7 linked regions of the Homo sapiens genome follow. The protein of the gene in region 6 purifies or fractionates together with the protein of the main gene of each other region. This does not show direct contact. Each region holds a gene or a part of one and is shown on either strand. Other genes may lie near its edges. The genes, in order: NPLOC4, PRDX4, CEP290, ANKRD22, KRT9, ARMC9 and EIF4B.

Region 1 (3,500 bases), on a different chromosome or scaffold from region 6:
GAGAACATATTTATTACCTAGGCCGTGAAGGCATCTGGTTTTTAGACTACCTAGGGTGTAATTAAGATGAAAACAGATTGATGGAGCATGCACCCAGGAGGAGCAGGCATGATTTAAAACCAGCTTTCTCAGGTCTTCTACCCCAAGCAGCCTCCCCACTTCTTTCCTCTTCTTTTATAAAGGAAGTTAAGTTTTTGCCTTAGTGCAGTTTTTCAGAAGTACTTGTTTGTGGGAGAGCATTCTGCTCTGTGATGCCCAGGCTCCTTGACCCTGTGGAAGTGAGGCATGGGGAGTCCTTGAGAGCAGGTGCCCAGAGAGGTGTGTCAAGCTCCATGCCCAGCCCTGGGCCACAGGCGCTGGCCTCAGCCAAGGTTCTTAAACCTTGGGATGGGATGGCTGGGCAGGCAGGAAAAGGCACCAGCCAGTGTTACTGGGGTTTCTTTGTGGGTTCTGGGGGCATCATCTGGCTGATAGACGATGGGTAGGGTAGGGAAATGGCTTCAGTGTAAGATGGGAGCTGATGCCCTTCCTTGGGACATCTGGGATGGGCTGTGTGGACTTTGGTTCTGTTCCCCTCCAAGGGCCAGTTACAAGGCCAGCAAGAGCCCCCGTCAGTCCCACTAGCTCACTCACTAGCACGTGTTCTGGGGGTGCCGCCTTCTTCATTTCTAGGCCTTCCCAAGGGACGCGCCTGAGCAGGCCAGGCTTTTGTCTCTGCAGGAGGTCAGCACCTCCCCTGTCTTCAGCTGGGACCCAGCACTGTGTGTACCAACACTATGTGTACCAGCCCCGTGCTGGGCACCCAGGAGGCGAGTACTCCGATCATCTTCATCCTGAGGAAGAGTAAAGTGAGGCCCAGGATCCCTAACTGACGAGGCCATGTAGCCGACACGTGGCACCGCGGCCCGAGTCTTCATGACCCACCCCGCCGCTTGCCCATGAAGGGCCAGCTCAGGCCAGAGATGCTGCTGGTGGCTCAGCTGTCCTTCCACAGCGGCTGGCGCTGGCACAGCAAATCCTGGGCCAGCTAGCTCAACAACTCACTGCCTTTGCTGATGCAGAAAACAGACCAGAACCACACTCATTCTTTAGAAATAGTCCCAAAGGAACCAGAATAGTTCCCCTAAATCTGGAAGAGGTGTGACCTCTGCTGCTGCTGTTGTGTTGCAGAGAAAAGCAGCATCAACTCAACTCGGTGCTGCTTTGGGGAGGGGTGTCTGTCACGAAGAATAAAAGTGGTATTTCTATTGATTCTTGCACATTTACCACTGTCCCTGTAGCATCTATTGATTATATCTTAGGTGCAAAGTGCCCTCTGTTGTCATTAAGGCCTGTCTGAGCCAGTGAAGGACTGAAGGACTTAGCTGGCCTTTGGGTATCAGCTCTGAGGGAGAGAGAAGAGCTGAACCCTGTGTTCCTCAAGGGCCTTACATTCACCCCTGCCTGGAAAAGCCCACAGCTCCGTGGAGTGGCTCCCAGCATTCAGAAGGGGCTTAGTGAGCTGCTGAAGGGTGCTTTGTGTCTTGAAAGCTGGCTGATTGCTCATTTGCCCTCCGAATCCAATGACACGAATCTCTCTTGAGCAAAGTCAGCTCCTGGGGCGGCCTCCTGGCCCTTCCGTTCCTTTCCTGTCACCTGGCCAAGGGGCCAAACCAGCCTTTCGTTCCTCCATAGCAGAGGGAGAGAACCTGTGTGACTCTGAAGGGAAGCTGTGCCACGAGGGGAGTCCCAGTGCCCTTTTTGTCCGACGTCGAGGCCGGTGCACAGGCCGGAGGCTGCCCGGATATGGTGTAGTTTGTCTCCAGGATGGCGGAGTTTCCAAGTGTTCGTTTAGAGATGACACTAATAGATAACGGTTCCCTTTGATGGAGAGCTTGTAGAACATTCTCAGAATTGCTAGGAGTCGTTAATTTGGGCTCTGGGAGATGCTCTGGGCTGGCTGGGAGTCGGCCACACCATTTTCAGCCTCATTTATCATGGGTTTGTGTTTTTCTTCATTAGATCACAACAACTTTCCCCAAGGATCCAGTTTACACTTTTTCTATTTCGCAAAATCCATTTCCTATTGAAAACCGGGATGTATTGGGTGAGACACAGGTGAGCTCTTTGTCTTTAGAAACATAATTTAAGGTAACTGCTGATTGTTATCTAGTGTCAGTATTGTTTTTCCAGAAAACATCAAGCTTTCAAATGCTCCCGATTCATTCTTGTGACAGGCCAGCTAGGGCCTACTGTGGGGCACTGCTGGTCACGTGGACGCCCTTCCCATGGCTAGGTGATGGACGGCCACAAAGGCTAATCCCCTGACGTCCTGACTGGCCACATCTTCAGTGGACCTCGTAATTTTCCCAAATGTGTTGCTTTGTGTCTTCTGCCAGCAGCCTCGTCACTGTTGGTTTGGCCTGGCCCCTGCCTGGTCACCTGCTGCCCTTCTTAGGCACCTTGGGGCTGTGTGGCCCCTCTCGGCCTGGCCTCGGCTTTCCCGTGTGTAGTGTTGATCTGCTGCTTAGCGTGGCTCCCGTGTTGGCCTCTGCTCTCACTGGCAGATCAGGCCAGGTCCGATTTGCTGTCACGCCTGCATACTGTGTAGACAGGCTGTGTACACATGGTTGTTCTTAAATCATAACTTGCTAACAGACATTTCAGAAGGTGGTCAAAGAATGTCTATAATGAGGTTTTCTTCAGTGGCTGACAAAGCTTCTTCTATGCTTTGATCCCCTCAGTGCCCATCCGCCCAGGGGACTTGGGGTGCTCACAGAGGTGCAAAGCCAGTTATTGGGGTGCACTCTTGAAGCTCTGTGTTTGGTTCTGCTGAAGATGTCCGTGCTGCATCACGGCTGCCCTGCACATTCCTCCCTCTTGCTGCCCTAGATGGAGAATACAGCTCGACAGGAAAAGTCAGACCTGTCTCCCTGCCGTGAAGGGGGCCCCAGGCCCCTCCCGCAGCCCACTCTCCACCGGGGGACCAGGGCGCATTTCCATGTTTGTGTCTCTGTCTGAGTCAGCCTTTTTTTTTTTTTTTTTTTTTTTTTGGAAGACAGAGTCTCACTCTATCACCCAGGCTGGAGTGCAGTGGTGCGATCTTGGCTCACTACAACCTCCACCTCCTGGGTTCAAGCGATTCTTCTGCTTCAGCCTCCTGAGTAGCTGGGATTATAGGTGCGCGCCACCAAGCCTGGGTAATTTTTTTTGTATTTTTAGTAGAGACGGGGTTTCGCCATGTTGGCCAGACTGGTCTCGAACTCCTGACCACCTGCCTGCCTCGGCCTCCTAAAAAGTGCTGGAATTACTGTGTTAGCCTCCACACCTGGCCAGTCTGAGTCAGCTTTATAAGCATGTCTCCTTGCACATCTGGGTAGTCAGGTGTGCTGAGAGCATCTTCTTGGGAGAAGAGAGCAAGAGCTTGCTTTGCAGCTGCCTGCTCCTCTTTCTTGGACCCTGTTCGTGGTTGCAGAGGCAGAGGGAGAGGTGTCTCAGCATTCAGTGTATTGAGTTGCGTC
Region 2 (3,500 bases), on a different chromosome or scaffold from region 6:
AGGATTTTTTCCGATTTTGGTATATCTGCATACTTACTGGTTGAACATCCCTAATCTGAACTCTGAAATGCTTCACTAAGCATTTCCTTTGAGCATCATGTCAGCACTCAAATTTTGAATTTTGGAACACTGTGGATTTCAGGTTAGGGACGCTCAATCTGTATTCTGTAACTTGAAACCAGGAGACATGGGCTGATGCTCTAACAGGAGGGTACTGACACAGCAGATAGAAAACAAAACGACATTGCTCTAGATATCTGGAGCCCCAGTTCTGACACCCAAGTAGAAATTTCTGGTTGATGTGAACCCTATCAGGCTGAGAATGTATCCCCAAATTTCCTTGGGAAAGCAATCCCAAATTATTTGGGATGCCATAACTTTTTCCTTAGTGGATATGCATTTTAATCCTCGGAAGATTTATAATTACTACAGAAGTGATGAAGCACAGCCCGGGCAACATGGCAAGACTCCATCTCTACAAAAATAAAAATTAAAATAGGTATGGTGGTGCAAGCTTGCAGTCCCAACTATTTGGGGAGGTAGAAGGATTGTTGGAGCCCAGGAGTTCAAGGCTGCAGGGAGCTATGATTGATTGTGCCACTGCACTCCAGCCTGGGCAACATAGTAAGACCCTGTCTTTCTTTTTTTAAAGGAAATGATGAAGCAAATTAAGCCTATATTTTAATTTTTTTTTTTTTTTTGAGACAGGATCTCACTCTATTGCCCAGGCTGAAGTGCAGTGGTATGATCTTGGCTCACTACAGCCTCGACCACCTAGGCTCAGGTCATCCTTCCATCTCAGGCTCCCGAGTAGCTGGGACCACAGGCATGCACCACCAGACCTGGCTAATTTTTTTTATTTTTTGTATAGATGGGGTCTCACTATGTTGCCCAGGCTGGTCTTGAACTCCTGGGTTGAAATGATTCTCCTGCTTTGACCTCCCAAAGTGCTGGGATTATAGGCGTGAGCCACCATGCCAGGCTATTTTAATATTTTTACATTAAGAAATAATCAGTACATATTTATATGTTAAGTTATTTATAATGTTTAAGAGAATTTGGCATATTAGAACTACTTAAGTATTTGGGAAGGTTTGTCTGAAAATTGAGATACTTAAGGAATTCAAATATATTAAATATATAACTGCATTTAAAAATACTTATGGGAATTAATTTCTTAGGGAAATGTAATTAATTAAATTGTAGCTCACCAAGCAATGAAAATTTGTTATACACACACAGATTATAAATGAGAAAAGCTTGTGTTTCAAATTTGTAACTTTAATAAATTGAATATTATGTTTTAAAACCAATAGTTCTGAATCTTTTTTTTTTTTTTTTTTTTTTTTTTTTTTTGAGATGGAGTTTCACTCTCATTGCCCAGTTGCCCAGGCTGGAGTGCAATGGCGTGACCTCGGCTCACTGCAACCTCCACCTCCTGGGTTCAAGTGATTCTCCTGCCTCAGCCTCCTGAGTTGCTGGGATTACAGGCACCTGCTACCACGCCTGGCTAATTTTGTATTTTTAGTAGAGACGGGGTTTCTCCATGTTGGTCAGGCTGGTCTCGAACTCCCGACCTCAGGTGATCTGCCTGCCTCGGCCTCCCAAAGTGCTGGGATTAGAGGCATGAGCCACTGTGCCCAGCCCAATTCTGAATGGTCTTTATTGTGCACAAAGTTTTCTGCACAAGACTGTGGACACTATAAAAACTCATATTAACATGTAAATTTCCAATTTTGAGACATGTTGCCCAACTGCTCTCCAGAAATGCTAAACAGCTGTGTGTGAGTGCCGTTTCTTCAATTTTTGTCCACAGTGGATACATTTTTTCAATCTTTTAAATCTTGGCCAACCAGACAGGGAAAATTGGCATCTCGTCATTTTAATTTGCAATTCTTTATAACGAATTTAGGTAAAACATCTTTTTATGATTAATGAATTTTTAAACATTTTTTAAAATTCATTTTTAAAAAGTATTGTTTCTTCAAAATTGTAAAAGCTGAGTTTGACTATATAACTGTGTAACAGAGAAATGGCATATTTTAAAGATTTTTTTCCTCCAGATTATGGTAACCCAATTTATCATAAGCATATAATTCAGTGGTTTTCGCTATAGAAATCACATCTATTGCATTTAACTTTTCCCCTTATTTTGAAATGTCCTATAAAATCCTTAAGCATTTTTATTATAGCAGCTGATTATATTACTCTTCTCTCTTTTTTTAACCTGGAAAATGTGTAGTTACATGTATTACTCTTAGATAAAGCTATTCCTGAATTGTCTGATAAATGACTATATTCTTATATCATATCAAGAGTTATCTGTCCATGCTTTAAGAGTAAATCCATTCTTTTTTTTCTACGAATATAAGTGTAAGATACTGACCAGGCCAAATGGGTAAACTGTGAATCAACAGAGCATGCTACCACTTCAGTATTTATAGATCTGAATTCTTCAAGTCTGTCGCCAAAAGCGATAATTTCAGTTGGACACACAAATGTGCTGAAAGGTAAAAAAAAAAAAATATTCAGTATTCTCCAAATAAGCATATACCTAAACTTTCAAATGACAATTTTTACAAATACCTTTAATAATAAAAATGCACATTAAGAACAATTTTATATTTGAACCTTTTCAAAATGGAGTAGTCTAAAAGACTGTCATTTAATCAAATATTTAAGACAGAAACATATTACAGAGTTCCCAACTACATCTCAATAAACTTTCTTATTACAACTTAATAGATCAGTAGTCAACCAATGTTCCCTTCTCCCTTATAGCAATAGCCACCCCTCATTTTATTACTTTTATTTAATAATACCTTTTATTTATATAGTATTTTATAGCTTTCAAAGGATCTATACAAATTTTATGTCATTTCACTATTTTTTTTTTAATATTCCTATACCAACCCTATGAATTAGATGCATCTATGTGTATTTTGGAGAGGAGGCAATGTTTTCCAGTACCCCCACCCCTCCTTTCTTGATAAGGTCCTCTTCCACCTTGTCTACCAGTCCTGTGCAGCCAGGGATTTTATACCTTAATACCCTCATGTTGTCAGGCCATGTTTACAGAATATTACTAGGGTGGCATTTTTTCAAACCGTGGTAGGGACTCCTTAAATTAACTGAGTTCTAAAAAATATTTTTAAAAAGTGAAATCGAATAGAAAACAGGAGACTCTATCATACATACTAAGGGTAAATTATGAAACACATATTTATATATACAAATATATATGTTTGTCTTCAACAGTGATGATATTCAAAATATTTAACAATCTTAACTCAAAGCTGGCTTTAGTTCTGGAGGTTTCTGAAAGGGATCAGGCAGGAGGACTAACTAGTTGGTGAGGAAAGGGAAGTGGCTATTTACCACATGATATGAGGGTTTTTCAGTATTTTAAGGAGCATGGCTGTGCTGGTGCATCCAGATGGAATGTTACCGTATATATATGTGCCTGTGTACTGGCTGACAACGAAAAATGTATTTCCTAC
Region 3 (3,500 bases), on a different chromosome or scaffold from region 6:
AATGTGGTAGAGAAAGTATGGATCGATGCCACTTAAATGTTAGGAAGAAGCTCTTAGAGCATTATCTGTTTAGCTAACTGCAAAACATAGCAGACATGTGGATTTTTTAATAGTCATCAAGGATCTAACTTATAATATACACTGGTAGAATTGCTTAGGGGGATGTCTGTGGTTTTCTGGACTTTTGTTCTTCTATATAGACCTGTATCAGTTGACTTATCATTCATACCACACACCCTTAGCTAATCAGAACTACCTTGTCCATTTATATCTTAGACTATTGTCTTTTTTCATAGTCACACACAGAGAAAACTTGAATATATGGCCTGTGTTCCTTTTTGGCTGCTCAATTCCTTGAGATGAAATATGGGTATGGGTTGCTTTGGCAATTACTTCTTTGCCGTTAACCAGTCATTCAGTTTTATTGAGTCTTTACAGCATACCAGAGGCTGCTAGTTACTAGTGATATAGTGGGCAACTATGTTCTGGTTCTCAAGAATATTCATAGTCAATAATAAGCATAACATAGTGATAATATGATACTTAGGGAGATACATAAGGTCATATTCTGGCATACTCTGGAGAGAGATACCGTAATCAGCCTTGAGGTGCAGGATGTGATCTGTAAACTGAGACCTGAAGTATAGTTAGACTGGTAAGAGGAATGAGGATATATATGGTGGTTAATAAAAGAACATTCTGGGTAGAAGATATAGCATTTGCTAAGACCTAGAGGTAAGAGATGTTATGGAGTATTTAGGAAACTACAGTTATTCATTTTGACTGAAATATAAGTGAAAATAGCTTTCATAGAGTCCTTACTATGTGCCAGGCACTTCATATGCATTAATTCATTATTGCTTATTTGATACTTGTCATATGAGATAGTTGTCATTTCTGCCATGATACAGATGAAGAAATGGAGACACAGAAAGAGTAATTGCCCATGGTTGCACAGCTTATAAATGGTAAAGGTAGGATTTGAAAACAGTCTTACTCAAGAGTCTGTGCTATCTTGCCTTCCCAGTTTTATTTTTTATGATCCTCTGGAGAGATAAGCAAGGGCCAGTTCCTAATGAATTTGGTTCTTTTCCTGAAAGGAGCCAGTGAAGAGTTTTGAGCACAGGATATCATGATCAGATCTATACTTTAAAAGTTTACTGTACTTTGTAGAGAGTGGATTGAAAAGGGCCAAGACTAGTAAGGAAACATTTGTGTTAATTCAGGGAAGTGCTAATGATGGCATTTGCCTGAGAAAGACAAGTGTGAGAGAAGTAGATGTAATTGGATGTGGTGAATGTAATTGGTTGTTGGAGGAGAGGGAGGATGGAGAGTCTGCCTAATTTTGTGGGTTGGGCCACTAAATAGGTAGATAGTGCCATTCATTAAGGAGGAACACAAGAGGAATTTGGAAAGCTTGAGATTATTTCAGTTTTGTAGATGTTGAGTTTGAGGTTCTTCTGGGCATATTCAAAAAGGGTATCTGTGGATATGGAATTCACAAGAGACCCTGTACAGATGATGAGGATTTATGAATCATCAATGTAGACATTATTGAAGCCAGAGAAGTGATTGTAAGGCACGTCTCTGAGAAATGTCTAATAAAGCAATGAAATAGGAAGAGTGCTTCAAGGAAAAGCTCAAGAAAGGAGAAACAGAGTGTGATGTTTGAGAAGACAAGGGAAAAAAACATTAATAGCATTAAATGCTTTAGCATTAAGTTCTTGGCTTCTCTTCTTGTAAAAATTTCCCAATTCAGAACACAGTGGGATTATTAACTTTCAATTGATAATAATAATGATAGGCAAACTTCTAAAATTTGTATTGTAGTTTGCATTTTATTATAAACTTTCTTTAAATTTTTATTTTGAAAAATGTCATATCTTCATAAAGATTGTAAGAAACACACTGTTGGTGTTAATGTAAATTAGTTCAACCATTGTGGGAGACAGTGTGGCAATTCCTCGAAGATCTAGAAGCAGAAATACCACTTGACCCAGCAATCCCATTACTGGGTATATACCCAAAAGAATATAAATCATTTTCTTATAAAGATACTTGCACACATATGTTCATTGCAGCACTATTCACAATAGCAAAGACATGGAATCAACCCAAATGCTCATCAATGATAGACTGGATAATGAAAATGTGGAACATATACATCATAGAATACTATGCAGCCATCAAAAGAGAATGAGAGGTCAAGCGTGGTGACTCATGCCTACAGTCCCAGCACTTTGGGAGGCCGAGGCAGGCAGATCACTTGAGGTCAGGAGTTCAAGACCAGCCTGGCCAGTATGGTGAAACCCCATCTCTACAAAAACAAAACAAAACAAACAAAAATTAACTGGTCATGGTACTGTATGCCTGCAGTCCCAGCTACTTGGGAGGCTGAGGCAGGAGAATGACTTGAACCCAGAAGGCAGAGGTTGCAGTGAGCTGAGATCGCACCACTGGACTCTAGCCTTAGCAACAAAACTAGAGTTTGTCTCAAAAAAAAAAAAAAAAAAAAACCGGAACAAGATCATGTCCTTTGCAGGGACATGGGATGGAGGTGGAAGCCATTATCCTCAGCAAACTCACACAGGAACAGAAAACCAAACACTGCATGTTCTCACTTATAAGTGGGAGCTGAACAATGAGAACACATGGACACATGGTGGGGAACAACACACACTGGGACCCGTCAAGGGGTCGGGGTGGGAGAACATCAGGAAGAATAGCTAATGGATGCTGGGCTTAATATCTAGGTTATGGGTTGATCTGTGCAGCAAGCCACCATTGTACACATTTACCTAAGTAACAAACCTGCACATCTTACACATGTACCCCAGAACTTAAAAGTTGATGGGAAAAAGAAAAACAATAACCACCCACATACCCTTCATATAGATTCACCAGTTCTTAATGTTGTGCCAACTTTGCTTTATCTTTTTGTCAGTATTTTTACACACACATGTATTTCTCTGTCTCTTGTTTGTTCAATCACATTTTTTGCTGAGTCATTTAAGAGCTAATTGCAGATATGATACTTTGCACTTAAATATTTCAGCTTGTCTGTTTGAAAAAGAAAGATGTTCTCCTACAATGAACACAATATAATTGTCATGCTCAGGAATTTTAATATTGATTCAACACCATTATCTAGTCCATAATGAGATTTCTTCTAATGGCCCAATAATATCCTTCAGTCTCCCCACCTCCAATATCCAAAGTTCTGTCAAGGATCACATACTACATTTGGTTCTTTATTATAGACTTTTTAAATATCGTTGTATACCATTGTGATTCTATCGTCTCCTTTAATAAAGAGGAGAACCAGAAAAATGAAAGGTCATAAGAGGAATGAGGTTTGGAGAATAGGTGAAAAAAGGCATCATAATGTTTATAATAATGTTTGCCTGTTCAGAGAAACAAGAATCACAGATAAAGTCACTTATATGTAGATAAGAGAATGCTGTATTACTTTTTGCTATTCTATTCACTGATCATTTTTC
Region 4 (3,500 bases), on a different chromosome or scaffold from region 6:
GGTACTATTTCTTCACTCACCAGCACCATGGTTGCTTGGCTACTTTTCCAAAGGCCAAATTTTGGACACTAATGCCCTAGCTATAATTTTTTTGACCTGTAGTGTTTTAAATTAGTACCAACAGAGTAGATGCACTAGCTTATAACACATAATATAAGCTATAACAAATCACGTTTGGGAAATGTCTCTGTAGAACTGCACTGATCTTGCAGGTGTCCTGCAGCAAGAGCACCCGACTTCTTCAGTAGGAATCATCACCAAAACCATAGAGGATAATGTTTATGTAAAGGGCCATGTGGAGACTCTTTAAGGGAAAGATGGTGACATGATCAAGGTGATGATCACCGAGGCATATAGCATGCGACAAAGAAACTTTGGCACAATTCAGCATCAGCTTTTTTAAGTTGCATTCTTTAGAACAGAAAATGGAAAACAAAAAGGCAGAGATTGATGGCTTATATGACACTAACATACATATACATTGAGACAGAGAAGAAATTTTTTTTTTTTTTTTTTTGAGACGGAGTCTCGCTCTGTCGCCCAGGCTGGAGCGCAGTGGCGCAATCTCGGCTCACTGCAAGCTCCGCCTCCCGGGTTCGAGCCATTCTCCTGCCTCAGCCTCCGGAGTAGCTGGGACTACAGGCACCCGCCACCGCGCCCGGCTAATTTTTTGTATCTTTTAGTAGAGACAGGGTTTCACCGTGTTAGCCAGGACGGTCTCGATCCTCTGACCTCGTGATCCGCCCGCCTCGGCCTCCCAAAGTGCTGGGATTACAGGCGTGAGCCACCGCGCCCGGCGAAAAATTTTTTAAGTACTAGAAATAGTTGTCTATCAATGGTTTGCAGACTATTTTTCTGCTTAGTTGTATACTACAAAGTGTGAAAAGGATTTGCCAATGAAGCCACATGCTATGGTCTGTGGAGGGCCCGACTTATGAGCTGAAGTTTTGGCCCTTTGTGTTTCAGTATGGCTGTACCGCATTACATTATGCCTGTGAAATGAAAAACCAGTCTCTTATCCCTCTGCTCTTGGAAGCCCGTGCAGACCCCACAATAAAGAATAAGGTAAGGGAGGGTGGACCGTGGTCTGAGGTTCCTCTAGCAGCAGCATCTTCTAATCTAGGCCTTATGTTGAAGTAAATTATTTGCCTCTGACGTAAACAACAGTAAAATTAATCATCCTCATTAAGGAATGAAGTTATCCTATTACTATTAGGACTGATTGCCTTTTAAAGCCCTTGCCAACACAGAGAGTCAATTGGTCTAAGCTACGTACGAGATCTTGGGCACTCTATTGGAAATAACTGTATATTTTTCCCCCCTCAGCATGGTGAGAGCTCACTGGATATTGCACGGAGATTAAAATTTTCCCAGATTGAATTAATGCTAAGGAAAGCATTGTAATCCTTGTGACCACACCGATGGAGATACAGAAAAAGTTAACGACTGGATTCTATCTTCATTTTAGACTTTTGGTCTGTGGGCCATTTAACCTGGATGCCACCATTTTATGGGGATAATGATGCTTACCATGGTTAATGTTTTGGAAGAGCTTTTTATTTATAGCATTGTTTACTCAGTCAAGTTCACCATGGCCGTAATCCTTCTAAGGGAAACACTAAAGTTGTTGTAGTCTCCACTTCAGTCAGAAACTGATGTTTCAGCTAGGCACAGTGGTACATGCCTGTAATCCCAGCTACTTGGGAGGCTGAGGTGGGAGGATCACTTGAACTCAGGAGTTTGAGAGCAGCCAGGGCAACACAGCGAGACCCTGTCTCAAAAAAAAAAAAAAAAAAAAAAGCCCTGGTGTTCCAAACTCAGTCTTTCCTGAAGAAGAGGATCTGAGTTATCTTCTGAAACAGCGTTCTCCCTTCCCAGTTGTATCACTCTTATAAAAAGACTGTCCAGTCTATGTCATGCCCTAGGAGACAAACTGTTCCTCCCAGCCCCCTTTGAGTATTGAGCAGAAGAATCAAATTATTAAATACGTATGTTTGTACAGAATGGTATTTGTGTATGTGTGTGGGCTTAGAGATTCACAAGTAAATATTCCTTTGGTGAAGGAATTTCAATAAAAACATCTATCAAGTGTCAGCGGTGAGTGTGTTTACACCACAGAAATTGGCAAATTGACAAATCAGAGTTTGTTTTTGTTTTTTTGTTTTTTACTTTCCATAAAGTTCGTTTACCAGCATACCACTAGAGATTTCGGTTTACAAATAAAAGCCATCTTGGTTTGAGCAAGACTATGCAACTATGAAAATGTTCGTTTAAAAAAATCTTCATGATCCTTTTGTAAATACAAGGTGGTTGCCAAGCTTGTTAGTTTTGTTTATTTTATTGATAGATGTAAAATATTATTGTAACTTATTTGGATAAAGTTCTTCAAAAGAAACAGAGCTATACAATGAGGTAGGATCTGGATTATTTGTCTAAGTGAGAGATTGCGAATATCAAAATATCTGTCTCACTTCTTCTGTGAATGACACAGAGTAGAAATAAATTCACTTTAAAAATATGACTGAATTTTGAAAATCAAGACTGAATCTCACATAGCTGCAGACAGGAACTAAGCCAGCCTCTTTGTATGTGGTAACAAGTACAGTATAAGAATGAAAGATTTACCATCCTTGAAAGCTCTAATGAAAATCAAATCCAGCAATATATATTCAACTGTGTACAGGATTTAAGAAACTTATTTTATGAAGGAAGTAATAGTGTGTAGATATAGATTCTGAAGTCTTTAAACGTGTCTTAATAAATTAAGATTCACTGGCATTGAGCTGAGCTACCAGGTGACCCTTGGGGACAAAAAACCCACACAAGTGAATTTCACACACCAGTATACCTTCAACAATATACTTTTGACACACACAAACCTTTGATTTGGTTTCAGAGATTTTGCAAAATAGTACCAATGTAATTTACAACTGTCATCTTTGAAATTGTGTAAAAGTGGAATAATTTTCTGAAGAAATAAATCATGGTTTGTCAATGAGTTGCAGAGACTGTCTGACATTAACTTTGTCAAGATTAAAGGATAAAGTATATGACAATTTGTTTCATCATGCTCATGACATTATGCAATTTTCTCCCTAGCTTTTAATTTTTGGAGGCAGAAAATTGAGCCAGAAATTTTTAGTCATTAGGTCTCCTAGCAACAAGCTGTAAACCTTCCAACAAGCTTGGACTAGAATCTAGACACTGAAATGCACATACATGCTTTATGTAATGCAGAATGCATTTATTGGAGAACTCATAAACATCCTATAAAATTTTCTTCCCTGAGATGCAACTATAAAACTTGGCCTTATTCTGAGAATGCTTAACATAGATTTCATCCATACTGTAACACTGATTTTGTTGTTGTTGTCCTTAAAGCAGCTCAGCTTCCTGAGGTAGTGTTATGTCTCTGTGGCAACAAGGTGAAAATGTCTAGCTTATTTTGTCAAAGTCAACAATAATCCACAGACTCCAGACCTCAATATCTGTCCCAATTT
Region 5 (4,198 bases), on a different chromosome or scaffold from region 6:
GTATGCAGTGAATGAAGATGGATGAATGACTTCCATTGGAAGATGGATAAATGACAGCTGCACTGAGAGATGCAGAGATAGGAGGATGAAGGAATGGGAGGTGGGAGGGATGGAGATAGGAATAGATGGAGGGGAGGAGGATGAATGGGCAGCCCACTCTGCTCACCTGAGTCTCATATTGATTCTCGATGTCCTTTCTGTTCTTAGCAATGAGCTGCTCATACTCCTGACGCATGTCATTGAGGGTCTTGGTGAGATCTTTGCCAGGAGCAACGTTTATCTCCACATTGACATCTCCACTGTTCTGCCCAGTCAGCTGACTCATCTCCTGCCAGGGAAGAAGGGGAGATGAGGTCACGGATAAAGTCCTCTGCACCACCTTTCAGAATTCTCCCTCTGGTCCCCCCAGGGTACAAAAAGGGGACACAGTTGTGAAGCCAAAGCCCAACCACTACCATAGGTGATGCCAAGGAGAAGTTGAAAGTGTCCTCAAGAGCAAAGGAGAGGGTGTCTCCCAGGTAATGTTCCAAAGCTCCCCTGCTGTCTCTGCATTTCTGCTCCTCCCTCTTCCCGGTAAGCCATAAGCCCCAGCAACCTACCTCCTTATGATTCTTCTTGAGGGCCATCAGCTCCTCCTGCAGAGTCTCATACTGCATCTCCAGGTCAGACTTCTCCATGGTCAGATTGTCCAGCACCTGCCGCAGGCCATTGATGTCAGCATCCACTCCTTGCCGCAGGTTTTGCTCCATCTCAAACCTGCAGACCAGCCAGGGTTAGAAAACAATCAAGAGGGAACCAGGCCCTACCAGGACCTCCAGAGCACTGAGGTTCAGGGGTAAGGGCTGATGACAGGAGAGGAGAAGAGGAGCAGGACTCACTTTATCCTGAAGTCATCCAGTGTCATGCGAGTGTTGTCAATGTCCAGGAGAGTTTTGTTGTTGCCCACTGTCAGGTCCACAATCTGAAAAAAAAAGGACACAGCCATGATATCATGCTGTGGACCACTGCTGAGAGGGCAAGAGGCCAGGCAAAGCCACAGGAGGTGAGGATTCCATCCAGGAAGATTCTCAAGAGGAATGAGGAACTTCCAACAGCTGGGACATGGCACAGACCCCTTCCAGCCTTCAGCGAAGATGTTTGGTGTGGCCTTCATTCATTCATTCAACAAATATTTGAAGATCTACTGCAAAGGGCATTGTAGGATTTAGAGATTACTGACATCCTGTTCCTCAGGGAGCCCACCATTGACTACAAAGTCAAAAGTGTCCTAAAAGAGTTCAAGGAAAGGAGAGGTGGCTTATGGCAATGGGAGATCAAGAAAGACTTCAGGAAGGAGGTGGCTGGCAATTGAATTGGGCCCTGAAGGATGGCTAAGATGTAACATTAATAAATAAATGGAAGAGGTTTAGAGTAGAAGAAACAGCACATTCAGAGACATGCAGGAGTTAAAACAAGAGGAATCACTGAGAATACTGAAGAGCCAGACCGTGAGCTCCACCAGAACTAGGTCTAGCACATCACTATGTCTACCCAGAGCAACCCTGAGGGTAGGCACTCACTGAACTGAGTGGCTGAATAAATGGATAGATAGATAGACATGTGGGTGGAGGGAGGAAGGGATAGATGGAAGGATGGATGGATAGATAGCTTCCATTCCCAGATTTCTGGATCCTCTCCAACACTTGAATAACCAACATGTACAGTCAGGTCCAAAATACCTTAAAAGATCAAGATACACTCCTAAAGAAGCCCAGGAGAAGTACAAAGGAAGAGAAAGTATTGACTTAGACCAAACCTAAAGGAGGTTCCACATCCAGTCCCAGCTCAGCTCACGTTAACCCAGGTCTCCTCTCTGCTCTGCCCAAACTCTGAAAGTTGAGGAAATGGAAGTGAACACTCAGAGCACAGGCCAAAGTCCTATCCTGGGATCCCCAGAAACCAAACACAAGTTTGTTTCTGATGAAAGCGTACATTTCCAAAAGGTGGATTCCCTGGCTATTATCTGAGCTTAGAGTTTAGCATTTTAACTTTTTTGGAAGATAAAGAATGAAAGAGAAAGAGACCAAGACAGAGACAGTTTCCTGCACCTACCTGGTCCTTGAGATCATCAATAGTGTTATAATAAGGGGAGTAGTTCTTCTGGATAGCAGCAGGTCCCTTCTTGTCGTACCAATCCTGGATCTTATTCTCCAGGTCGTTGTTGGCCTCCTCTAGAGCCTGCACCTTATCCAAGTAAGAGGCCAGCCGAGAATTGAGTTCCTGCATGGTGCTCTTCTCATTAGCAGTCAGAATACCACCATCACCTCCTCCAGCACCACCTCCAAAGCCCCCAAACCCCCCAAACCCACTCCCATAGCCACCACCAAAGCCACCTCCAGAACCACCACCAAAGCCACCTCCAAAACCCCCAGAACTACTATAGCCTCCTCCAGAAGCACCACCAAAACCTCTGGAACCACCCCCAAAGCCACCGCCTAAACTACTGGCACTAAAACCACCCCCAGATCCTCCGCCGTAGCTGTAGCCAAAACTGCCACCGCCTCCCCTCCCACAGACACGAGAGCTTCCCCCACCATAGCCACTAGAAGAGCTGAATCGGCCCCCTCCTCCACCGCCCCCTGAGGAGCTGAAGCGGCTGTAGGAAGACCTTATGCTGCCCCCGCTGCCCAGGCCGCCCCCGCCACCCCCGCCGCTGCGGCTCAAGTAGGACGAGGAGAACTGTCTGCAGCTCATGACACAGCTGGTAGCTCACGGGTTGAGAAGCAGTGATAGGAGTGCTACCGGCTCCCAAGTGCAGGGTACAGAGCTGTCCCTGGGGCTGCCTACTTATACCCCCAGCTGAAGGTGGCACGCCTGGGTGTGCCCTTGTTCTGTGCCAGCCTCCCCCCACAGACCCGAGGGAGGTCTGGGATACGGAGGCAGCCGGGCTGCCCCAGGCTCAGCGTCCTTTGGTGACTGCCTGGGGGCGGCCCAGCCTCTCTCCATTGTGTGGGATAATTTGATGACATTAGGCTGTCAGGGCCACCATAAATCAGCTGTACTGCCACAGGGGTGACCTAGATCCTGGAGTCTGGTCTCTGGCTGGCCCCAACAGCAGGTCTGAGACTTAGCCCCTTCGGGATAGAAACTCCCAAGAGCAGAGTCACCTCCTCTATTGATGGTCATTACTGTCTGCATCCCTCATGCCTCCTTGCTCCCACCTTGTGCCCACTGTGAGCTGAGCTGGAACTAGGGTACTAAGGAGTTATCATAGAGGAGGGGGAGGCACAGCCCCTGCCCTTGTGGAGCCCCAAATGGATGAAAACCAATCCTTGCTCTCAGGATCCTCGAGGCTTTCTGCAGAGTCTGAGGCTCTGCCCTTGGGAGACTCCAGTTTGATGAGGAGGCAACTGGCATGGCCAAAAGATGGAGACGGGCACCGAGACCATGCCCGCCAGCACTAAAGGACAGCGTGCAGAGTTCACACAAAGGGCTGGAAGAAGAAAGTGGACCAAATAAACAAGGTGGTGCTGACACTAGCTGACCTCTGAGCAGGAATGCAAGTGGCTCGACTGTCCTGGTCCTTTTGCAGGGCCCAGCAGGGAGTGTGGAATTGACCTTGGTTGAGTGCCTACCCCATACAGAACTCTGGAGGGGATACAGAGATGTGTGACTTATCCCTGCTCCTGGCAGAAACTTGGATGTATATTCTGGTCACCAAGGCCAGAAGAGAATGGTAAAGAACACGCTGGTCTCCGGTGTGCCTACCTGAGCTCCATCCAGCTCCATGCTCATGAGCTGTGTGACTTTGATAAGTTACTTAAATACTCTGTGCCTCAGTTTCCTCCTTTGAAAAAGGTTGATATGAGTAGTTTGTCCATCTCCTAGTAAGAGACTTGTGAGAAGTGCTCAAAAAATGTTCGGCTGCCTCTGATCATTCAGCCCCCTAACTCCCCGTCAACTCTGCCCTCACCCAGACCTTAGCCATGAGCTTCTAACTGCCCTCCCTGCCTCTCCCATTCCCTCTGACTCTTCCTGCACAGCAGCCAGAATGACCTTTCTAATCCATGTCTGACAACATCACTTCACCAGTTTCCCTCCACCCTCAAGATAAGGTCCACATTCCTGGCACTTAGGCCCATCCCCATCTTTCCATTCCTGCCCCATCTCCCACCATCCCCCAGGCCCCCTAGAAAATCATACAATGCTTCCCAAATGC
Region 6 (3,500 bases):
CTCCCAAAATGCTGGGATTATAGGCGTGAGCCACCACACTCAGTCAGATCTCTTCTGAGTCTGTAACCTTACATTTTTCTGCCACTGCCTCCCCACCTCCTTTCTCTCCACTTCAATCCAATTTCTACACTTTTAACAAGTGAGCATTCCCCTCCTGCTTGGGACCCTCCTGTGGTTCCAGCGCCCTCCAGATGAAGGCCAGGCTCCTTAGGCTCAACTCCCAAAGCCCTAGACAACTTGGCCTCTGACACACTCCCATTTGTTCTGTAAACCTGAGCCACACTGGCCACTGTGTGGTTCCTGTGGACACCCACTGAACACCCAAAGCACACGCCTGCCCTCGTGAACTCTGGCTCACTGCCCTTCCTTCAGATACGTCTCATTCAGGTCTCTGCCTAACTGTCACCTCCTCAGAGAGTCTTGCCCTGACCACCCTTTCTAAGAGGTCGGCCCATCACTTCTCAGCCCTTTGTACTGCTTGATTTTTCTCAACAGCACCTGACAGGTGTTCCCCTGTGCCTAGACCAGTGCCTGGCACACAGTACAGGCTCAAAAACATGGACGGAGTGGAAATTGATTCCAGACATGAAGAAAACAGCGCAAGGAAAGGGACAGAACCTGAAGGAGACGGGTATGGGGTTATTTTAGATAGAGTGGTTGATGGCCTCACTGGGAATGTGACATTTCAGCAAAGATTGAGCACCTGGATCTGGGGAAGATGGCTTTGTTAGTGCACAGGCCTCAGGCTGAAGAGCTCTGCAGTCTTGGGGTATTGGGATGTAGCTAGGGGTGAGGCAGACAGCAGCAGGCAATGGGGGGCCGGGGCCAGGTCAGGTGGGCCTTACAGAGCTGGTAAGTGGCTTGGACATTAGGCTGACAGTAACAGGAGGCTCAGAGAGAGTATGGAGGAGGGGACTGACACCACTGATGTCCTTTTTTTTTTTTTTTTTTTTTCCTGAGACAGAGTTTCCCTCTGTTGCCCAGGCTAGAGTGCAGTGACATGATCATAGCTCACTGCAGCCTCAAACTCCTGGACTCAAGCAGTCCTCCCACCTCAGCCTCCTGAGTAGCTGGGCCTACAGAGTGTGCCACTATGCCCCAAGTCTTTTGTTTTCTGGTTTTTTCATTTGTTTGGTTTTTGGTGAGGTTTTTTTTTGTTTGTTTGTTTTTGAGACAGAGTCTCGCTGTTGTTGCTTGGGCTGGAGTAGAATGGCACAATCTTGGCTCACTGCAACCTCCACCTCCGGGGTTCCAGCAATTCTCCTGCTTCAGCCTCCCGAGTAGCTGGGATTACAGGCACCCGCCACCATGCCTAGCTAATTTTTGTATTTTTAGTAGAGACGGGGTTTTACCACGTTGGCCAGGCTGGTCTCGAACTCCTGACCTCAGGTGATCCACCTGCCTCGGCCTCCCAAAGTGCTGGGATTACAGGCATGAGCCACCACGCCCAGCCTTGGTTTTTTCAGAGACAGGATTTCACCATTGCTCAGGCTGGTCTTGAACTCCTGGGCTCAATCCTCCCTCCTCTGCCTCCCAAAGTGCTGGGATTACAGGGGTGAGCCACCACGCCCGGCTGCTGATGTCCATTTTTTAATATGCATGTTGCCTGCTCTACAGAGAAGACTGGAGGGGAGTGGGAAGAGGGAGATGAGTACTGCTCAGGCCACGCCAGCCATGAGCATCATTTGGATAAGCAAGAGGGGCCATGAGCGCTGTGAGTCCAGATGGAAAAGGCAGAAGAGGCACAATCTGCAGACCAGTTAGTTGTGGGACATGAGGGGAAGAAGGGAAGGAAGAACCCTGGGATCTGAGCAGCTGGCCGAAGAGTATGTGATTTGCTGAGTCAACGAAAACCTGGGGAAGGACTGTTTTGAGGTCAAACCAAGAGCTCTGTTTTGGCTATAAGTCTGAGCTGCCTGTTAGACATTCCAGTGGAGGTTCCGAAATGGTCAGTGGGTATTGTAAGAACCAAAGAAAGAGGAGAGAGGAGAGAAACACGAAGGGTGGCTCGACAGTCAACAGGTTTATTTCAAACCTGGGAGGGACTTCCGACCGAGTTAGGTCAGAGCCACACTCTCCTACAGACTAAGAGTTTTTAAGGATTCAGGGTGGGAGAGTTTATCAAAGGCTTGAACTGTTTCTGTGTCTCTCTGTTGTGCTTATCTGGGAGGGAGAGTTGTGTGTCTGTTCCTATACAACTTTCTGCAGCTGCAGGCATACCCCCCAAGTCTGCTTTTAGCTTCCCTTAGTGCACCTGAAGGGAACAGAATGTCCTTATTAAGGCCCACTGTTATACTGAGGCCCATTGTAAGAGGGTGAAGTTTGGCCGTTACCCAGGAAACAAACCTGTTGACTGTCAAGTCACCCTTCGTGTTTCTCTCCTCTTTCTTTAATTCTTACAGATATATGAGCCTGGAGTTTAAGGGAGAAGCAGGAACGGCATTCAGAGGGATAGCAGAGAATATGGGTGCTGAGCAAAGACACAGATTTAGTGATTAGAAGTGAAACAGGCTGGGTGCAGTGGCTCACACCTGTAATCTTGGCACTTTGGGACACCAAGGCAGGCAGATCACTTGAGCTCATGAGTTCGAGACCAGCCTGGGCAACGTGGTGAAACCTCATCTCTACAGAAATACAAAAATTAGCTGGGTGTGGTGGTGTGTGCCTGTAATCCCAGCTACTGGGGAGGATGAGACAGGAGGATCACTTGAACCAGGAAGGTCAAGGCTGTAGTGAGCCGGGATCACGCCATGGCACTCCAGCCTAGGTGACAAAGTAAGACCCTGTCTCAAAAAAAAAAAAAAAAAAAAAGTGAAACAAGAAACAAGATCAGCTGGGCACGGTGGCTCACGCCTGTAATCCCAGCACTTTGGGAGGCCAAGGCAGGCAGATCGCCTGATGCTGGGAGTTCAAGACCAGCCTGACCAGCATGGTAAAACCCCATCTCTACTAAAAATACAAAAATTAGCCGGGTGTGGTGGCAGGCACCTGTAATCCCAGCTACTCTGGAAGCTGAGGCAGGAGAATCGCTTGAACCCAGGAAGTGGAGGTTGCAATGAGCCGAGATCGTGCCATTGCACTCCATCCTGGGCAACAGAGTGAGACTCTGTCAAAAAAAAAAAAAAAAGAAAGAAAGAAAAAAGGTCATCGGCTGCAAGTAAGAAGCATGGTGACAGTTCGAAGAGAAGGGAGAGTGGGAACGGAAGGGAGGGTGGGAACCAAAGCGACTACAGCAACATGGCAGGGTTGCTGGTATTATAGTCCATTTAAGATCTCTGCACTTGAATCTAAAATGGAATCAGTCTGCACAGTTTTGCAGCTCTTCTCCAGGCACTTTCAGCTATCTGAGTTAGGTTAACCAATGTGAGAGGTTCTTCTAGAAGAGAGAGGAAAGGGAAAACAGTACAACCACGATGGGACACTGGAACTAATCAGGTTAAGAATGGGGGAGGGGAACACACATAAGGCGGCTGCAGAGCAGTGAGGAAGCAGTGGGGTCT
Region 7 (2,630 bases), on a different chromosome or scaffold from region 6:
CAAGACACAGGATACTGATCCTTTGGCAATGGGGGATGACAGTCAGATGACACCCACTTGCTTGCTCATCAGCATTGTCCATTGGAGAGGAGCTAGGGAAGAGGGTCAGAGGCACATGCGATCTTACTATAGTCTCATACCACCTCTACACCTTGCAGAAGGGATGAGAACAAAGGAAGACAGAAACCAGGAAAAAGCTAAACTTCTTTCGCTATTTCAGTAAAGACCAATGTCTTATTTCCAAACACTTTGTATTCCAAATGGAAAGAAGTCCAACGGCAAAAAGTTTAGAATACTAAGAATTTTTAATTCTTAGTAAGAATACTTAGAATTCTAAGAATTTTTCTTAGAATGAAAAATTGGGAGCAGCCTTCAACACTTACGGAAGCTGGATTTTCCTCAGGTTTCTTTGGCTCAGGTGCAGATCTGGAGTCTTGATCCTTTTTGCCATCTTTCCTGCAGAGACGTAAGCATAAAACCATGTCTTTAGGAAAGGACTCGCCTAATACAAACATGTGTATGCATGCAGTTTCAAGGCACTGAACAGGCACCTCTAGTCAACAGTCCTTGTTGTCTGGATGATGTATTACTTCTAGATTTTCAGAATCTTAACTGTCTACGTTGGCTGACTTTAGTTTGCTCACAATGAGCGATCTGGCAGTGCTCTGAGAACCAAGAACTTAATTTCTTAATTACACAAACATGTGGATCAGAGGAAAGATGAGAAAGAGAACAAGCATACCTATCTGACTCCTTCCAGTGGTCTCTGTTCCCTCCGTCGCCTGGACCACGGCTAGAGTTCCCAGTTTGGCCTTTTGGGGCATTCATCCCATCTACTTTATTTTCATCTGCTTGGGCAGTAATGTAAACAAATTAAAGGCAAGTAAAAGTATCAATGTCCCTCTCCTAAGATTTCCCTTAAGCTGAAGAAAATTGTGCCCACATGTACTGAGGGAAACTAACCTCACCCCAACCCAGACTTCCTTCCTGAAGCCCTTCTTTCCACATCCTCTACAGCACACAAAAATACAAAAAACAAACAAAATCCACTAAAAAGTTCCATGTAGGGATATGCCATCATGAAAAGCAAGCTGGAAATAAAGATTATGACGCTCTGTAGTGACCTTGGTTAATTTCCTTCCGATTTTTTTCTCCCCGTCAAAGAAATGTTCTACCAGGAAAGGGCAGGGTTTCATACTTTCTCCAAAGAGGCCACTCCTCCCTCTACTGGCAAGAAAAGGTAGATAACCCAATAATTCTTTTTTTTTTGAGACAGAGTCTTGCTCTGTCGCCCAGGCTGGAGTGCAGTGGGGCCATCTTGGCTTACTGCAACCTCCGTCTCCCGGGTTCAAGCAATTCTCCTGCCTCAGCGTCTCCCGAGTAGCTGGGATTACAGGCATGTGCCACCACACCCGGCTAATTTTTTTTGTATTTTTAATAGAGACGGGGTTTCACCATGTTGGTAAGGCTGGTCTCAAACTCCTGCCCTGTGATCTGCCCGCCTTGGCCTCCCAAAGTGCTGGGATTACAGGTGTGAGCCCCTGCGCCTGGCCAACCCAAGAACTCTTAACACGGTATCAGGTGCGAGACACACTGCTCTTCAAAATCTAATTTTGGAGGCCTTTTTATTTAGGCTTCTAGGTGAAAAACCTATTTCCCATACTATGAGCTCACCTTTCCTTCCTGGTCCTTCCTCAGATGGTTGAGCTGGAGCTACTTTTCCCCCACCACTAGAAGGAAAACAGGTAATCACATTCATCAGTTGTTTCAGGGAGAAAACAACCAAGAAACATAATCATCCTCCAAATGCAGTGGGTAAGCTTTATAGAAAACAAAATCATACTCAATGTTATGGAACATTAAAATATGGGAAAGATTACAATGAAAGCAGTAATTTGAACACTAAAGTGCCATATGCTTTCTAATCATCACATCATGCAGGATTAGTATTGCTATTTTCTTTTCTTTTGGAGTCTTAACTCTGTCGCCCAGGCTGGAGTGCAATGGCACATCTCGGCTCACTGCAACCTCCGCTCTCAGGTTCAAGCAATTCTCCTGCCTCAGCCTCCCGAGTAGCTGGGATTACAGGTACCTGCCACCACGCCAGGCTAATAGTGTTGCTATTTTGCTTACAAATGAGAAGACTTAAGAGAAATGAAAGGAAGTTACCCCCTACCATACTGCCAATATGTGGCAAAAGGGAAGCCTCTGACTTACAGTATTTGCAGATTTGTGCGGCATTAGTACTCCCATCATAGCTGATTTCAAGCTATCAAAGTGGTGGAACTCCAGAAAATGGAACAACTAGGTCTTATGAGCCAGTTCCAGCACACTAAGAGACTAAAGCCAGCATAACTTATAAGGTGCTATACAACGCTGGCATCCCGTAGGAGATCTTCCATCATTACATCACAGTATTTTAGAATCTGCAGTTAACCAACTACTGTTTCCAAACTGACTCACCTTGTAGGGGACTGCTGCTCTGTGTCTGAGCTCTGAGATCGAGCAGGAGGGTTAGAACTTCGCTTCACCCAAGCATTCTCCTTTGGTGGAGGGGCTGGCATTACCTTTAGGGGCTGATCAGGTTTGGGAGGTTTAGAAGTTGGAGAGTGGCAATCTTCCTCCTTATT

What was found.
Region 1: the proteins of ARMC9 (region 6) and NPLOC4 fractionate together in Homo sapiens (co-fractionation; one large-scale study listed by BioGRID). This does not show direct contact.
Region 2: the proteins of ARMC9 (region 6) and PRDX4 purify together in Homo sapiens (co-immunoprecipitation; one large-scale study listed by IntAct). This does not show direct contact.
Region 3: the proteins of ARMC9 (region 6) and CEP290 purify together in Homo sapiens (co-immunoprecipitation; one large-scale study listed by IntAct). This does not show direct contact.
Region 4: the proteins of ARMC9 (region 6) and ANKRD22 purify together in Homo sapiens (co-immunoprecipitation; one large-scale study listed by IntAct). This does not show direct contact.
Region 5: the proteins of ARMC9 (region 6) and KRT9 purify together in Homo sapiens (co-immunoprecipitation; one large-scale study listed by IntAct). This does not show direct contact.
Region 7: the proteins of ARMC9 (region 6) and EIF4B purify together in Homo sapiens (co-immunoprecipitation; one large-scale study listed by IntAct). This does not show direct contact.

Annotation. Positions count from the first base shown.
Region 1 is NC_000017.11:81,567,613-81,571,112, reverse strand, and holds part of NPLOC4 (nuclear protein localization protein 4 homolog), read left to right. Parts: intron 1-2,001; coding exon 2,002-2,097; intron 2,098-3,500. UniProt on the Homo sapiens protein: The ternary complex containing UFD1, VCP and NPLOC4 binds ubiquitinated proteins and is necessary for the export of misfolded proteins from the ER to the cytoplasm, where they are degraded by the proteasome.
Region 2 is NC_000023.11:23,673,993-23,677,492, reverse strand, and holds part of PRDX4 (peroxiredoxin-4 precursor), read right to left. Parts: intron 2,504-3,500; coding exon 2,387-2,503; intron 1-2,386. UniProt on the Homo sapiens protein: Thiol-specific peroxidase that catalyzes the reduction of hydrogen peroxide and organic hydroperoxides to water and alcohols, respectively.
Region 3 is NC_000012.12:88,132,089-88,135,588, reverse strand, and holds part of CEP290 (centrosomal protein of 290 kDa), read left to right. Parts: intron 1-3,500. UniProt on the Homo sapiens protein: Involved in early and late steps in cilia formation. Its association with CCP110 is required for inhibition of primary cilia formation by CCP110.
Region 4 is NC_000010.11:88,820,845-88,824,344, reverse strand, and holds part of ANKRD22 (ankyrin repeat domain-containing protein 22), read left to right. Parts: intron 1-966; coding exon 967-1,065; intron 1,066-1,326; coding exon 1,327-1,404; 3' UTR 1,405-3,500.
Region 5 is NC_000017.11:41,569,260-41,573,457, forward strand, and holds the start of KRT9 (keratin, type I cytoskeletal 9), read right to left. Parts: upstream 2,801-4,198; 5' UTR 2,734-2,800; coding exon 2,092-2,733; intron 962-2,091; coding exon 879-961; intron 757-878; coding exon 600-756; intron 329-599; coding exon 167-328; intron 1-166. UniProt on the Homo sapiens protein: May serve an important special function either in the mature palmar and plantar skin tissue or in the morphogenetic program of the formation of these tissues. Plays a role in keratin filament assembly.
Region 6 is NC_000002.12:231,201,631-231,205,130, reverse strand, and holds part of ARMC9 (lisH domain-containing protein ARMC9), read right to left. Parts: intron 1-3,500. UniProt on the Homo sapiens protein: Involved in ciliogenesis. It is required for appropriate acetylation and polyglutamylation of ciliary microtubules, and regulation of cilium length. Acts as a positive regulator of hedgehog (Hh)signaling.
Region 7 is NC_000012.12:53,037,456-53,040,085, reverse strand, and holds part of EIF4B (eukaryotic translation initiation factor 4B), read right to left. Parts: coding exon 2,464-2,630; intron 1,731-2,463; coding exon 1,675-1,730; intron 849-1,674; coding exon 743-848; intron 457-742; coding exon 384-456; intron 1-383. UniProt on the Homo sapiens protein: Required for the binding of mRNA to ribosomes. Functions in close association with EIF4-F and EIF4-A. Binds near the 5'-terminal cap of mRNA in presence of EIF-4F and ATP.